2 separate regions of the Homo sapiens genome follow, and region 1 is linked to region 2. A link means that fine-mapping ties the variant in region 2 to the expression of a gene that starts in the linked region. Tissue or cell type: whole blood. Region 2 holds a variant in brackets; the other region holds the start of a gene. All regions are shown on one strand. Distances are between the middles of the regions.

Region 1 (8,274 bases), 43 kb before region 2:
AGATGGCCTTCTGGCCCTTCTGGGTCTAGGGCAGTAAAGCATCTAAGAGTTGTTGCCAAATGGGCCATGAACTGGGCTGGGTTTTTATATTTGATGAAAAGGAGCCTAAGCACTAACTGATTTGGGAGAGGTCAGATAAAGAAAAAGGAGCATTAACCTTGACTGTGCCTTCAGCTCCAGCCACCTCTTTAGGAGGAAATTGTTGGGCAGGTGGGGGAGGGCTAGTCACGAAACAAAACTGTAAGCCAGACCAGGTATGAGGAGGGGAGGTGATAGAAGGATTATAGGGTGGGGGAGTGGAGGCCGAGGAAGAATTGGGACCTGGCTCGGCCTGGTGAGGAGCAGCCTGGGGAGAAGGGGAGAGGTCAGATGGGTCCGTAGAAAAGGAGGATTTAAAGGACTCAGAGCTTGGGGTGGAGACTGAAGGAACACACAGGAGAGAAAGAAGAAAGATTTGGAACGAGTTGCATTGGGAGCAGAGACTAGGGAGGGACCAATGTGTGAAAGAATGCCTGGATGTCAGGCACCTCAGACCATTTGCCCATTTTTCGACAAAAATTATCTAGATCTTGTAGGATGGAGAAATCAAAAGTGCCGTTTTCTGGCTATTTGGGACCATTGTCGAATTTGTACTGGGGCCAAGCAGGGTTGTAGAAGAAAATAAGGTGTTTTGGTCTTAGGTCAAGTGTAAGTTGAAGAGGTTTTAAGTTCTTGAGAACACAGGCTAAGGGAGAAAGGGGAATGGAGGGTGGAAGTTTGCCCATAGTGAAGGAGGCAAGCCCAGAGAAAAGAGAGGGTAGAGACTTGGAGTGGGTGGTGGTACTTGCCACCCAGGGGAGGAGGTACTTGCCACCAAGGGGAGGTGGTACTTGCCACCAAGGTGAAGGATCAAGGCAGGCATCCCCGTGGTGATCAGACACCTCTGAAATGTGAGTGAATAATCAAGCAGGCGTTCCTGCAGTGATTGGACACCAAGGGAAAACTGTCTTCCCGAGTCTGTGACCAATGCCAGAGTTTTGGGTGCACAGATAAAATGTGTCTCCTTTGTCTCTACTAGAGAGGAAAAAACTGGAATTGGAAGGACAGGGAGATTAAAGGGTAGTGAGAAGGCTGGAGAAGAGAGTGAAAAGGCCGCTTACCCAATTTTAAATTGGTGAGATGTTCCTTGGGCTGATTGATGGGAGGACGCGAGGTCATAGGTGGATCTCCTCATGCAGTGAGGGTGAGGACAGGGGACCAGTTTCCCGAAGGAGTCCTCCTGTCCTGGGTCTTCAGCACCAAATGACACACACGTCCGTGTGAAGAGAGTCCACCAACAGGCTTTGTGTGAGCAACAAGGCTGTTTATTTCACTTGGGTGCAAGTGGGTTGAGTCCGAAAAGAGAGTCAGCAAAGGGAAATGGGGGTGGGGCAGTTTTATAGGATTTGGGTAGGTAGTGGAAAATTACAGTTAAAGGGGGTTGTGCTCTTGTGGGCAGGGGCGGGGGTCACAAGGTGTTTGGTGGGGAGCTCCAGAGACATTATCCAGGAGAAGGAATGTCACAAGGTAATGTCATCAGTTAAGGCAGGAACTGGCCATTTTCACTTCTTTTGTGGTCCTTCAGTTGCCTCAGGCCATCCGGATGTATACGTGAAGGCTTGGGCTCAGAGGCCTAACAGTAGGACATAAAGAAAATGAGAAGAAAATTATCTGAAGGCTGGTTATTCAATGTTAGGGTTTGCTATTTTTTTAAAATCTTACTGCCTTTTTGTTGCAGGACTTTTTTTTTTTTTTGGGAAAAACAGAGTCTCACTGTGTCTCCCAGGCTGGAGTGCAGTGGTGCAAACTCGGCTCACTGCAAACTTTCCTTCTCAGATTCAAGCCTCAGCCACCTGAGTAGCTGAGATTACAGGCCCACACCACCATGCCGGGCTAATTTTTGTATTTTTAATAGAGACGGGGTTTCACCATGTTGTCCAGGCTGGTCTTGTACTCCCAACCTCAAGTGATCCTCCTGCCTTGGCCTCCCAAAGTGCTGGGATTACAGGCATGAGCCACCGTGACCAGGCGTTCATGAAAAATTTTCATGACATTCTGTGAGGTGGGTGGACCATAATTTATTGTACCACATTTATTTATTTATTTATTTATTTATTTATTTATTTATTTATTTATTTTTATTTTTTGAGACATAGTTTCGCTCTTGTTGCCCAGGCTGGAATGCAATGGCGCAATCTCGGTTCACTGCAACCTCTGCCTTCCAGGCTCAAGCAATTCTGCCTCAGCCTCCCAAGTAGCTGGGATTACAGGCATGCGCCACCACGCCTGGCTAACTTTTTTTGTATTTTTAGTAGAGACGGGGTTTCTCCATGTTGATCAGGCTGGTCTCGAACTCCTGACCTCAGATGAGCCGCCCACCTTGGCCTCCCAAAGTGCTGGAATTACAGGCGTGAGCCACCGCACCCTGCCTATTGTACCATATTTAGTTTCCCAATTTTTTGCTATATAATATTCCATGAATATCTTTGCCCAAAATTTTTGTAGATTGTTTCTAAGAATAGTTCATCAGCATTTTAAGACATCCTATTAATATTAGCGGACTGCAATCAGATTGAAGTAGTTCACAAATAGATGGGTTTTAGCCTGTATTTGTTCAATACTGAACTATTGTATGTATCAGGCACTGTTATGTATCAGGCACTGTTCTCAGCACTTGTAAAATGTATATGTGCTGCTGACAAGCATGAGCACTTGTAAATGAACAAACTAAAATCCCTACTCTTGTTAAAGTGGGGGAGGTGAAGAATTTTAAAAACATCTTTTTTCGTTCAACCTTCTCCCACAACTTATCTTTCATTCTGCTAATGGAAAATATTACTTTTGTTCTTAAATATGAAGCTTTTGTGTGTAAAAAGTATTAGAATCTCATGTTTTTGAACAAGGTTGGCAGTGGGTTGGGAGGAGGGATTGGAGATTGATGCGATAGGAATGTGAAGGGATAGCTTGGGGTGGATTTTATTTTTTAATTTTAATTTTTATTTTTTGAGATGGAGTCTTGCTCTGTCTCCCAGGCTGGAGTGCAGTGGTGTGATCTCAGCTCACGGGTTCAAGCGATTCTCCTGCTGCAGCCTCCCGAGTAGCTGGGATTACAGGAGCGCGCCACCACACCCGGCTAATTTTTTTGTATTTTTAGTAGAGACGGGGTTTCACCATGTTGGTTAGGCTGGTCTAGAACTCCCAACCTCATGATCCGCCTGCTTCGGCCTCCCAAAGTGCCGGAATTACAGGCGTGAGCGACTGCACCCGGCCGCTTGGGGGTGGATTTTTAAAGAAACTTTAGAAGAATGTAACTTGCCCAGATACCATGTACCGTTAATTTCATTTTCGGTTTTTTGAATACCCATGTTTGACATTTCTCCGTTCACCTTGATTAAATAAGGTAGTATTCATTTTTTAGTTTTAGCTTTTGGATATATGTGTAAGTGTGGTATGCTGTCTAATGAATTAGACATTGGTACTGTCTTTACCAAAACTGGACAAAGAGCAGGCAGATGCAAAAATCAAGTGACCCAGCAAACCAGACACATTTTCTGCTCTCAGCTAGCTTGCCACCTAGAAAGACTGGTTGTCAAAGTTGGAGTCCAAGAATCGCGGAGGATGTTTAAAATGCAGTTTCTCAGGTTCTCGCCACCCACCAGAAGTTTTGATTCATTGAGTGGTGGGAGAGGGCAGAGATATTTGCGATTTTAACAGCATTCTCTTGATTGTGATGCAGCTGGTTCGCAAATAGGTACCCTAAAGAAATGACAGGTGTTAAATTTAGGATGGCCATCGCTTGTATGCCGGGAGAAGCACACGCTGGGCCCAATTTATATAGGGGCTTTCGTCCTCAGCTCGAGCAGCCTCAGAACCCCGACAACCCACGCCAGCGCTCTGGGCGGATTCCGTCAGGTGGGGAAGGCCAGGTGGAGCTCTGGGTTCTCCCCGCAATCGTTTCTCCAGGCCGGAGGCCCCGCCCCCTTCCTCCTGGCTCCTCCCCTCCTCCGTGGGCCGGCCGCCAACGACGCCAGAGCCGGAAATGACGACAACGGTGAGGGTTCTCGGGCGGGGCCTGGGACAGGCAGCTCCGGGGTCCGCGGTTTCACATCGGAAACAAAACAGCGGCTGGTCTGGAAGGAACCTGAGCTACGAGCCGCGGCGGCAGCGGGGCGGCGGGGAAGCGTATGTGCGTGATGGGGAGTCCGGGCAAGCCAGGAAGGCACCGCGGACATGGGCGGCCGCGGGCAGGGCCCGGCCCTTTGTGGCCGCCCGGGCCGCGAAGCCGGTGTCCTAAAAGATGAGGGGCGGGGCGCGGCCGGTTGGGGCTGGGGAACCCCGTGTGGGAAACCAGGAGGGGCGGCCCGTTTCTCGGGCTTCGGGCGCGGCCGGGTGGAGAGAGATTCCGGGGAGCCTTGGTCCGGAAATGCTGTTTGCTCGAAGACGTCTCAGGGCGCAGGTGCCTTGGGCCGGGATTAGTAGCCGTCTGAACTGGAGTGGAGTAGGAGAAAGAGGAAGCGTCTTGGGCTGGGTCTGCTTGAGCAACTGGTGAAACTCCGCGCCTCACGCCCCGGGTGTGTCCTTGTCCAGGGGCGACGAGCATTCTGGGCGAAGTCCGCACGCCTCTTGTTCGAGGCGGAAGACGGGGTCTGATGCTTTCTCCTTGGTCGGGACTGTCTCGAGGCATGCATGTCCAGTGACTCTTGTGTTTGCTGCTGCTTCCCTCTCAGATTCTTCTCACCGTTGTGGTCAGCTCTGCTTTAGGCATATTAATCCATAGTGGAGGCTGGGATGGGTGAGAGAATTGAGGTGACTTTTCCATAATTCAGGTGAGATGTGATTAGAGTTCGATCTGCGGTGGTGGCAGAGGCTTACAAGAAACACTAACGGGACATGGGAACCAATTGAGGATCAGGGAATAAAGTGTGAAGTTGACTAGGAGGTTTTCAGTTTAGAACATGGCAGAGACATTCTCAGAAATAAGGAAGTTAGGAAGAAAGACCTGGTTTAGAGAGGAGGGCGAGGAAGTGGTTTGGAAGTGTCACTTTGGAAGTGCCAGCAGGTGAAAATGCCCTGTGAACAGGACTGGAGCTGAAAACAGGAATCAATTCCATAGATTTCCAGTTGATGTTGGAGCAGTGGAGAAGTCTAAGCTAAGGAAGGGGAAGAGGAGGCCAAGGCAAACACTTAGGAACACTTGCAACGAGGGGGTGGAAGAAGAGCAAGGAGCCAGCTGAGGAGAATGAGTGTGGTTGGAGAACCACCACAGCGCAGGGTCGCCAGAGCTGAGGAAGGGGAGGGAAGCTTCAGGAAGGAAAAGGTTGGCAGGGATTTTGAGTGTTAGGCCTGGTGTAGCAGAAGGAACAGAAGATTTAGAGCAGCGCTAGCCAATAGAAATAAAATGTGAGGCCCGGGGCGGTGGCTCACGCCTGTAATCCCAGCACTTTGGGAGGCCGCGGGGCGGATCCTTGAGCTGAGGAGTTCGAGACCAGACAACACGGCGAAACCCCGGCTCTACAAAAAATTAGCTGGGCGTGGGGGCGCGCGCCTGTAGTCCCAGCTGCTCCCAAGCGAGGCTGAGGCAGGAGAATCACTTGAACCCGGGAGAAGGAGGTTGCAGTAAGCCAAGATTATGCCACTGCACTGCAGCCTGGGCAAAAGAGTGAGACTGTCTCAAAAAAAAAAAAAACCTGTTTTGTTTTTCTTTTGGAGAAAAGGCATACAAATTTATTAGCATGCAGACTGGGAGAACCACAAGGTGATTATCCCTATTTTAAATTTTCTAATAAACATACTATTATTTATTTATTTATTTATTTATTTATTTATTTATTTATTTTTTGAGACGGAGTCTGGCTCTGTCGCCCAGGCTGGAGTGCAGTGGCGCGATCTCAGCTCACTGCAAGCTCCGCCTCCCGGGTTCACGCCATTCTCCTGCCTCATCCTCCCCAGCAGCTGGGACTACAGGCGTCCGCCACCACGCCCGGCTAATTTTTTTGTATTTTTAGTAGACACGGGGTTTCACCGTGTTAGCCAGTATGGTCTCGATCTCCTGACCTCGTGATCCGCCCGCCTCGGCCTCCCAGAGTGCTGCGATTACAGGCGTGAGCCACCCTGCCCGGCCGGCTATTTATTTTTTTAGAGATGGGAGCCTCACTATGTTGCCCAGGCTGGTCTTGAACTCCTGGAGTCAAGTGATCCTCCCGCCTTGGCCTCCCAGAGTGGTGGGATACAGGCACAAGCCACTGTGCCTAGCCATAAACACATTTTTAAAGGTAAAAAAAGGCCGAGCGCGGTGGCTCACCCCTGTAATCCCAGCACTTTGGGAGGCCGTGGCGGGCGGATCATGAGGTCAGGAGATCGAGACATCCTGGCTAACACGGTGAAACCCCATCTCTACTAAAAAATACAAAAAAAAAAAAATTAGCCGGGCGTGATGGCGGGCGCCTGTAGTCCCAGCTACTCGGGAGGCTGAGGCAGGAGAATGGCGTGAACCCGGGAGGCGGAGCTTGCAGTGAGCGGAGATCGCGCCACTGCACTCCAGCCTGGGCGACAGAGCCAGACTCTGTCAAGAAAAAAAGAAAAAAAATGTAAAAAGAGGCTGGGTGGCCGGGCGCAGCGGCTCACGCCTGTAAACCCAGCACTTTGGGAGGCCGAGGCGGGTGGATAACCAGATCAGGAGATGGAGACCATCCTGGCTCACGCGGTGAAACCCCGTCTCTACTAAAAGTACAAAAAATTAGCCAGACATGGTGCCAGGCACTTGTAGTCCCAGCTACTCGGGAGGCTGAGGCAGGACAATGGCGTGAACCCAGGAGGCGGAGCTTGCAGTGAGCCGAGATCGCGCCACTGCACTCCAGCCTGGGCAACAGAGTGAGACTTCGTTTTTTTTTTAAAAAAAGGCTGGGCACAGTGGCTCACACCTGTAATCTGCCAGCACTTTGGGAGGCCGAGGCAGGTAGATCACCTGAGGTCAGGAGTTCGAGACCAGCCTCGCCAAAATGGTGAGACCCTGTGTCTACTAAAAATACAAAAAATTAGCCGGGTGTGTTGGCGTGTACCTGTTATCCCAGCTACTCGGGAGGTGAGGCAGGAGAATCGCTTGAACCCAGAAGGTGGAGGTTGCAGTGAGCCGAGATCATGCCACTGCACTCCAGACTGGGCTACAGAGCGAGACTCCATAAGAAAAAAAGAAAAAAAAGGGGGGCAAAAAGAAACAGATGAAACCAATGTGAATAATTTATTTTAACACAATATACCTAACATATTTTTATTTCAATATCTAACCAGTATAAAAATTTACTTGTTTTGCCCTCTAGAGATAGTAAGCTCCTTAAGTAAACAGAAGTAATACCTGATTAATTAGAATTCCCAACCCTCATCAAGTGTGTGCTTATATAGAAGAAACCCAGTAAATGTTTGTTGATTGAAAGATATTAATACTCTTGCTTGGATGAGAGTGAGGAAAAAGGTATTAGTATTGGCTTTTCACAACGCCTTGTACGGTTTCTTGTTTAAGTTGATCAAAGCAAAAGAAAGACTGCAGGCAATGCTAAATATAACAAGTGATTTACAAATTAATTAGACGTAAATAATCATTTTTCATTAAAAATTAGTTGTATTCTGTCCATTTCCTCAGAATTTTAGACAATGATTTTGAATAATCATATCTCCCTTATAGAGTTATTGAAATTAAATAACTTATTGGGAAAGATTCTTTATAATTATACAAAGGTATATAGGACCATAGTCTCATATCCAGAGTTCTGAAATCCGAAAACTAAAAGGTTTTTCTTTTTTTGCTATTCTTTTTTTTTTTTTTTTTTTTTTTTTTGAGACAGAGTCTCCCTCTGTCGCCCAGGCTGGAGTGCAGTGGCACAATCTCAGCTCACTGCAACGTCCGCCTCCCAGGTTCAAGTGATTCTTCTGCCTCAGCCTCCCGAGTAGCTGGGACTACAGGCGTGTGCCACCACACTGGGCTAATTTTTGTATTTTTAGTAGAGGTGGGGTGTCACCATATTGGCCAGGCTGGTCTCGAACTCCTGACCTCGTGATCCACCCGCCTCAGCCTCCCAAAGTGCTGGGATTACAGGTGCGAGCCACTGCACCTGGCCAAGGTTTTTTATAACTAATTTAACAGCAAAATCTGGCCTAGTTATCGTCTTTATTTTCTTTTTTTAATGTGATTTAAAACTATTCATTTGTTTCACTATAGCTTAATAATTTGTTTGCTTTTCTGCTTCTAAGACCCTGTAGGGG
Region 2 (8,000 bases):
TATTTCCTTAGGGTAAAATCCTAGAAGTAGAATTTTTGGGGCAAATTATCTACATATTTATAACTGTCTTGGTATTCAAAATCTCGTTTTCAAAAAGCTTATATCAATTTGTACTTAACACCAGTAGTGAATGAGAGTATCTGTCGTACCCCACCAGTGCTGAATTTCTTTTTTAAAACTGTGCTGGTTTTTATAGGTAAAGAAAATGTCTTAATTTGCATTTAGTTGGTTACTAGTAATATCACATACCTTTTCAATGCTTGTGAACTTTAAGCTTATACAGAGTTTAACCTTGCATGTTGAACATTTGAGTGAGTGGAAGTGTTAAGTGATGGCCATCTGTATAATCTATTAGTAATGTATGGAGACCATTAAAGATGACAGGTATGTGTGATGATGACAGGTTGTTACCAACACTCAGAAGGCCAAAAAGCAAGTGATATAAACCCATGCTGGGAAGCATTCACCTCCCCCACTTTAAAAATGCTAGTTTCTTAATTCCTTTTCTTTATCCCTTTTTTTGTCTGCACGTGTTTACTTGCCTTTAGTTTCCCTGCTTTAGTAGGCTGACCTTGTGACTTTTACCAGGATCCCATTATACTTTTGTTCTTCTGTTTATTTCTCAGATTTTATTGGAGGGTGGAATTCTACTTTTTCTTTCTTATAATCTAGAATTTACATTCAGATTTCCTGCCTTTCCCTTACAAAATACCTGTGTAGTTGGATAGGTGGAGCTCTGGACTCAGAGTTCTTTCTTCTAGTAATCTTAGGAAATTATTTAATTTTTCTGTGTTTTCATATTTTCACACATAAAAGAGAAAACACCATTTCTAAACTACCTCTTCTTTTCTCTGCTTTTAAGCATGTAAAGGTTTTCCCAATCTTGGGCAGTGACATGTACAGGACAGTATAGCTTTACATCTGCCTTGTTTTAATTAAACACTAGTTCTTTGAGGTAACCCCTACTATTATCCCAGTTTTATGGATGAGGCACTGAGGCAGGGGTCACACAGCTAGTGTGGGTCAGAACCTAATGGGTCAGAATGGACATTTGAGTCCAGAGTTTGGCCTGGATTGACACACATAGCTATTACGTAAGATTCCTCTCAAATTCAGTCCTCAGCTCCCTGAAGTGTGGGTTCTCTTTTCATGCCTCCATGGAAACTGCGTATCATGTGGTTACCAGTTTTTCCTTTGGTCGTATCTGCTGACCTTTTTGAACCTAATTTTTTCTGGACCTTATTGCCATTTGACTTATTTATTGCCTCCCACTTGACACTGATTCTGGCTTTTGCTTTTCTTCCTACTTTGGTCCTTTTTGCAGTTTTCTAAAGCTAACCAGCCATGACTCTCAGATGATGGACTTTTTCGTCTCTCCCATTACTTCTTGGGAAATTATATTTTAATCTCATGGTTTAAATTTTCATCCTTAAATATAACTTTTAATGTAGTATTTTTAGCCCAGAAGGGCCCATGGTTGGTTTGTTTTCTCCTTTGCATATCTCTTCTACTCAGATACCTGGTAGCATATAAATCAAATGAATTATCCTTCATACCATTTCATTATCATCAGTAGGACTGCTTTGCTGGGGTTTTTTTGTGTGTGTGTTTTTGTTTTTGTTTTTGTTTTTGTTTTGAGATAAAGTCTTGCTTTGTCACCTAGGCAAGAGTGCTAGGATTACAGGCGTGAGCCGCTATGCCAGGACAGCCGTTTTCTTCTAGTATTATTTGCCCTCTGTCTGAACATCTTCCTTTAGTAATGCTTTTAGAGCAAGGCAGCTGGCCTCAATTTGTTTTAATTTTTCTTCCCCTTAGGATGTTTTAATTTTACCTTTATTACTGAAGGATATTGTTACTGGGCAGAAAATTGTCTTGATATTCCCCTTTTCAGCATTTAAAAAATGCTCTTCTGCTTTCTTTCAGCCTCCATGGTTTCTCATAAAAATCAGTCATTCGAATCACTGTTCTTCTAAAAGTAATACATTGTTTTGTTCTGGTCACTTTCAAAATTTTCTTTTTCTTTTCAGCAGTTTAATTATGGGACTGTGTGAGGATTTCTTTGTTCATTCTGTTTGGAGTTCACTGAGCTTTTTGAATCTCTAGGTTTATGTCTTTTACCAAATTTGGAAAATTTTTCAACCATTATTTCTTCAAAATTTTTCTGTACCACATTCTTTACTCTTTTTTTTTTTGAAACAGAGTGGCGCACTGCAACCTCTGCCTTCCCGGTTCAAGTGATTCTCCTGCCTCAGCCTCCCAAAGTGCTGGGATTACGGGTGCCTGCCACCATGCCTGGCTGATTTTGTTAATTTTTAGTAGAGACGGGGTTTTACCACATTGACCAGGCTGGTCTTGAACTCCTGGCCTTAAGTATTCCGCCTGCCTGGGCCTCCCAAAGTGCTGGGTTACAGGTGTGAGCCACCACACCCGGCCCTTTTTTTTTTTTTTTTTTGAGACCGAGTCTCGCTTTGTCACCCAGGCTGGAGTGCAGTGATGTGATTTTGGCTCACTGCAGCCTCAGCCTCCCAAGTACCTGGGATTACAGAGATGTGCCACCATGCCCAGCTAATTTTTGTATTTTTATTAGAGATGGGGTTTCACCATGTTGGCCAGGCTGGTCTTAAACCCCTGGCCTCAAGTGATCCGTCTGCCTCAGCCTCCCAAAGTGCTGGGATTACAGACGTGAGCCACCATGCCTGGCTCTTTACCCTCTTCTGGGAGTGACAACACAAATAACTTTTTATTCCACAGGTTTCTGAGGCTCTGTTTATTTTCCAATTTTTTTCACTATTGTTCTGGTTAGATAATTTCTATTGATCTGTCTTCAAGTTTCCTGAAATTTGCATTTTGTTGGTAAACCTATTCAGTAAAATGTTTTTGGTTATTTTATTTTTAGTTCTAAAATTCCTATATAGCCCGTCTTTACATTTTTTTATTCTGAAACTTAAAACTTTCCTTTCATTTTAAGAGTGTTTGCCCTTACTTCTTGGAGCATTTTTATGCTCCAAGGATTTTGATATTTTTGTTTTATTGGCCAATTGATCTGATTGGGCTAGGTCCAGCCAGCCTTGTCAAAGCCTTTGCAGTGTTGCTCAGATCTGCCCCATGTATATGCCACCCAGTCACCAGTCTGGGACTGGTATAGTGGTGTTCTATTTGTAATTCGGTTGTCAGGGTCGGTGTGTACTGTTGAGGATCATATCCATACTCACTCACCTTGGGAATGGACCCACAAGTTTATAAACAGCTTTAAGAGATTGCTTTCATGAGTTTCTTTCTTTCTGTGATCTCCATGTGGTTTCTTGGGCTTCCCTTTTCCATTCCTGCAGCCAAAAGTGGACTTTATCTTCCTAAAGTCAGGGCCAAAATGTGGGAGGAGAGAGAGAAATAAAGCAAGGGCTATTTGCCCCACTCTCTCGGGACTGACATTCTTCCAGTCAGAGTAAGGATTCCCTCCCTCTGAATTTTAGGCTTCTGCCACCCACATTACCATCACCACAGGATTGTGTGAGGACTGGGCATACGAGAATGGAGAAAAGCGGAAAAGAATGCCGGGTGTGGTGGCTCACGCCTGTAATCCTAACACTTTGGGAGGCCAAGGCGGGCAGATTGCCTGAGCTCATGAGTTTATGACCAGCCTGGGCAACACAGTGAAAACCTGTCTCTACTAAAATACAAAAAATTAGCCAGGCATGGTGGTGGGCACCTGTAGTTCCAGTTACTCAGGAGGCTGAGGCAGGAGTATTGCTTGAACCCGGGAGGCAGAGGTTGCAGTGAGCCAAGATCGTGCCACTGCACTCCAGCCTGAGCTACAGTGCGAGACTCTGTCTCCAAAAAAAAGGAAGAAAAACTGGATTTTTACACTGTCTGGGTGTTAGGAGACCTCTTTCCTGATCCTCAAGCCAGAACTAGAGGTCTTCTGGAGCTCCCATTGTCTTGCTAATGCCCACTCATGTTGTAATGAGCACAGGTGGAGGAAAAAAAGTGGTCAGCTCACTGCTAGTACTTCTAATTCCCCAGCCCACCTACCTCTCATTACTTTTCATCTTTTGCAACCAGCTGCTGCCTGCTTTCTGCCCAGGTTTTGTAACTGTATTCAGTGGGATAGAGAGAGTGGAAGGTACTTACTCCATCTTATCTGGAACCTTTCTTAATATATTTTTTGTCGCATTTGTACATCTTTTATCCATCCTTCATTTTATTTTATTTTTTTTTTTGAGACGGAGTCTCAGTCTCTCGCCCAGGCTGGAGTGTAGTGGCATGATCTTGGCTCACTGCAACCTCCGCCTCCTGGGTTCAAGTGATTCTCCTGCCTCAGCCTCCCAAGTAGTTGGGATTACTGGGACACGCCACCATGCCTGGGTAATTTTTGCATTTTTAGTAGAGATGAGGGTTCCCCATGTTGCCCAGGCTGGTCTCGAACTTCTGACCTCAGGTGATCCACTGGTTTCGGCCTCCCAAAGTGCTGGGACTACAGGCCTGAGCCACCACGCCCAGCCTTATCCTTCATTTTAGACAGTTTAAGAGGTTTGTATTCAGCCAGATCTCCACATTTACTTGTTCATTTGTGTTGTGATGTTTTTTAATGTTCAAGTCTTAGCACACACAAACAATTATATAGAAACAAGTTGTTTACTTTGACACCCAGTATAACTAAAAGGATCTTTTGAGTCAGAGATT[G/C]AGTAACTTGCCAGAGCCTGTTTGGAAATAAACCCTGAGGATTTTTCATATCAGTGGTTGGTTATGCAATGTCTGTGGCAAGCCCTAGAAACTAAAAGACCAAACCTTAAAATGTTAAAAACAGGAAAGGCAGTTAATTATTATACATAATTTGTTATAAAAGGAACTATAACTTATTAAAGTCAGATGATTTCTGGCCTTGATAGTTTAGGGTTTAGAGAAGATACTGTTGTGTACTATAAAACAGCAGGGCTGTTTTCTTTCATACCCTTTAGCACAGGAAAGCTGAACTAGGGATTTTTGCAAGATGAGAAAGGCCTGTTGAAATGTGTGTGTATAACATAGTAATAAAAGAAATGCATATGAAAATAACAAATTAACATATTTGACATATTGACTTTGTCAAGATTAGTCTTTTTTGTCAAGTAACTAAGCCAGTGTGTATTAATTAAATCAGTAATTAGAAAAAGTTTGTACACTTTGATTTAGTAATTTTGCTTTTATGATATATTCTAAAGAAGGAATTAGAAATGCAGAAAAATATTTGTGAAGTAGGATGTTCATTTTAATGTAAATTAAAATTGGGGAAAGAAAGGGAAAACAATACAGATTCCATGCATAAGGCAAAGGTTCAATTGTGGGTTTATCCGTATGAGTAGACTATTATTTTGTCATTTAAAAATCATAGTTTCAGCTGGGCGTGGTGGCTCACGCATGTAATCCCAGCACTTTAGGAGGCTGAGGTGGGCGGATCACCTGAGGTCAGAAGATCGAGACCAGCCTGACCAACATGGAGAAATCCTGTCTCTACTAAAAATACAAAAAAATTAGCTGGGCGTGGTGGCGAGTGCCTGTAATCCCAGCTACTCAGGAGGCTGAGGCAGGAGAATCGCTTGAATCTGGGGAGTGGAGGTTGCGGTGAGATTGCGCCATTGCCCTCCAGCCTGGGCAACAAGAGCAAAACTCCATCTCAAAATCAATCAATCAATCAGTCAATCAATCATAGTTTCACGCCAGGTGCAGTGGCACGGACCTGTAGACCCAGTTACTTGGGACCCTGAGACGAGATGATTGCTTGAGCCCAGGTTTTCCAGTCTAGCCTGGGAAACATAGTGAGACCCCAGTCTCTTAAAAAAAAATCATATTTTCAAATAATATTTGGTGGCATGAGAATATGTTTGTAATAAAAGATTACATTTGTGAAAGCAGAATGTAAACAGTACACTAGTTGATTCTCACTGTTAAGGTCTTTACACACGCCTATACGTGCAGATAGAAAACATGTCTGAAAGGGAAACGGTTTTATTTTGTTTCGTATTTTTTTTTGAGACAATGTCTCACTTTGTCAGTCAGGCTGGAATGTAGTGGCACTGTCTCGGCTCACTGCACCCTATACCTCCTGGGTTCAAGCAATCCTCCCACCTCAACCTCCATGGTAGCTGGGACTACAGGCACCTGCCACCACGCCTAGCTAATGTTCGTATTTTTAGTAGAGACGGGGTTTTGGCATGTTGGTCAGGCTGGTCTTGAACTCCTGACCTCAGGCAATCCACCTGTCTCAGCCTCCCAAACTGCTGGGATAACAGGCGTGAGCCACTGTGCCTGGCCTGAAAGGGAAATGTTGGTATTAATTTTGGTTGTCACTGGCCTTTAGAATAGTTTTCTTCTTTTAGTGTTTCTGTGTTTCTTAAGTGTTACAAGCATATGTTACTTTTGATTCAGAAAAATGCTATTTTTAAAATAAGCAAGACTGGGCACGGTGACTCTCACCAGTATGGCTGAGACCAGAGGATCACTTGAAGCCAGGAGTTCAAAACCAGCTTGGGCAACAGAGTGAGACCCCCACCTCTACAAAAAGAAAAAAAAAAAATTAAAAAATTAGCCAGGCATGGTGGTGTACCCACGCCTATAGTCCTAGGTACTAGGGAGGCTGAGGTGGGAGTATGGCTTGAGCCCAGTGGTTCGAGATTGCAGTGAGCTACGATCATGCCACTGTACCCCAGCCTGGGCAACACAGTGAGGCCCTATCTCAAAAAATAATTAAAAAAAAAATATTTGGGGGCTCCTAGAAGGTACAGTTAAAAAAATTAAAATTAGGCCGGGCATGGTGGCTCACGCCTATAATCCCAGCACTGTGGGAGGCTAAGGAGGGTGGATCACTTGAGATCAGGAGTTCAAGACCAGCTTGGCCAACATGGTGAAACTTCATCTCTAATACAAAAATCACCTGGGCGTTGGTGGTGGGTGCCTGTAATCCCAGCTACTCGGGAGGCTAAGGCAGGAGAATTGCTTGAATCTGGGAGGTGGAGGTTGCAGTGAGCCAAGACCATGCTACTGCACTCCAGCCTGGGCGACAAAGTGAGGCTTCATCTCCCAAAAATAAATAAATAAAATTAAAAAAAGAAATAAATAAGAACATCTCCTTCTTCCTTTGCCAAAAAACCGAGGTGAAAAGCATCTCTCAAGAATGATGAGAATTTCAATTATTTAATATTTACTCTGGTCCTTAATTTAAAGCTTAATATGGAATCCCAGTGTACATCTCCCACTGGTATTGTTTGTCTTGGCCAAGACAGACAAGTTTTAAAGAGTGAGATAAAATTTAGGCTAAAGTTGAAGTATTTGGAGGGAAATGTACAGATGTTCTCAGCTTACCTTTTTTGTTTTTTTGAGATGGAGTCTCGCTCTGTTGCTCAGGCTGGAGTGCAATGGTGCGATCTCAGCTCTCCACAACCTCCGCCTCTCAGGTTGAAGTGATTCTCCTGCCTCAGCCTCCCAAATAGCTGGGACTGCAGGTGTGTGCCACTATGTCTGGCTAATTTTTGTATTTTTTTTTTTTAATTTATTTTTTATTGATAATTCTTGGGTGTTTCTCACAGAGGGGGATTTGGCAGGGTCATAGGACAATAGTGGAGGGAAGGTCAGTAGATAAACAAGTGAACAAAGGTCTCTGGTTTTCCTAGGCAGAGGACCCTGCGGCCTTCCGCAGTGTTTGTGTCCCTGGGTACTTGAGATTAGGGAGTGGTGATGACTCTTAACGAGCATGCTGCCTTCAAGCATCTGTTTAACAAAACACATCTTGCACCGCCCTTAATCCATTCAACCCTGAGTGGACACAGCACATGTTTCAGAGAGCACAGGGTTGGGGGTAAGGTCACAGATCAACAGGATCCCAAGGCAGAAGAAGTTTTCTTAGTACAGAACAAAATGAAAAGTCTCCCATGTCTACTTCTTTCTACACAGACACGGCAACCATCCGATTTCTCAATCTTTTCCCCACCTTTCCCGCCTTTCTATTCCACAAAGCCGCCATTGTCATC

Direction of the effects. Positions count from the first base shown, and alleles are read on the strand shown. Sizes are in standard deviations (SD) of each study's normalised expression.
As copies of C replace G in region 2, the expression in whole blood of the gene that starts at base 4,128 in region 1 goes down (moderate effect, 0.51 SD a copy in Lepik 2017).

What was found. PIP is the estimated chance that this variant, and not a neighbour inherited with it, causes the effect.
Region 1: PSEN1 starts here. The variant in region 2 is fine-mapped to the expression of PSEN1 in whole blood (TOPMed, PIP above 0.99).

The regions. Positions count from the first base shown.
Region 1 is chr14:73,132,380-73,140,653 of GRCh38, forward strand. PSEN1 (presenilin 1) reads left to right here and starts at 4,128. Exons shown (of 12, transcript NM_000021.4): 1 at 4,128-4,204. RefSeq lists silencers at 3,908-3,987, 4,248-4,307 and an enhancer at 4,478-4,587.
Region 2 is chr14:73,175,786-73,183,785 of GRCh38, forward strand. All of the region lies in intron 5 of PSEN1 (presenilin 1), which reads left to right. Among named protein-coding and RNA genes, the nearest start is that of PSEN1, 43 kb to the left of the region's middle. The variant G/C (reference allele first, on the strand shown) is at 4,681.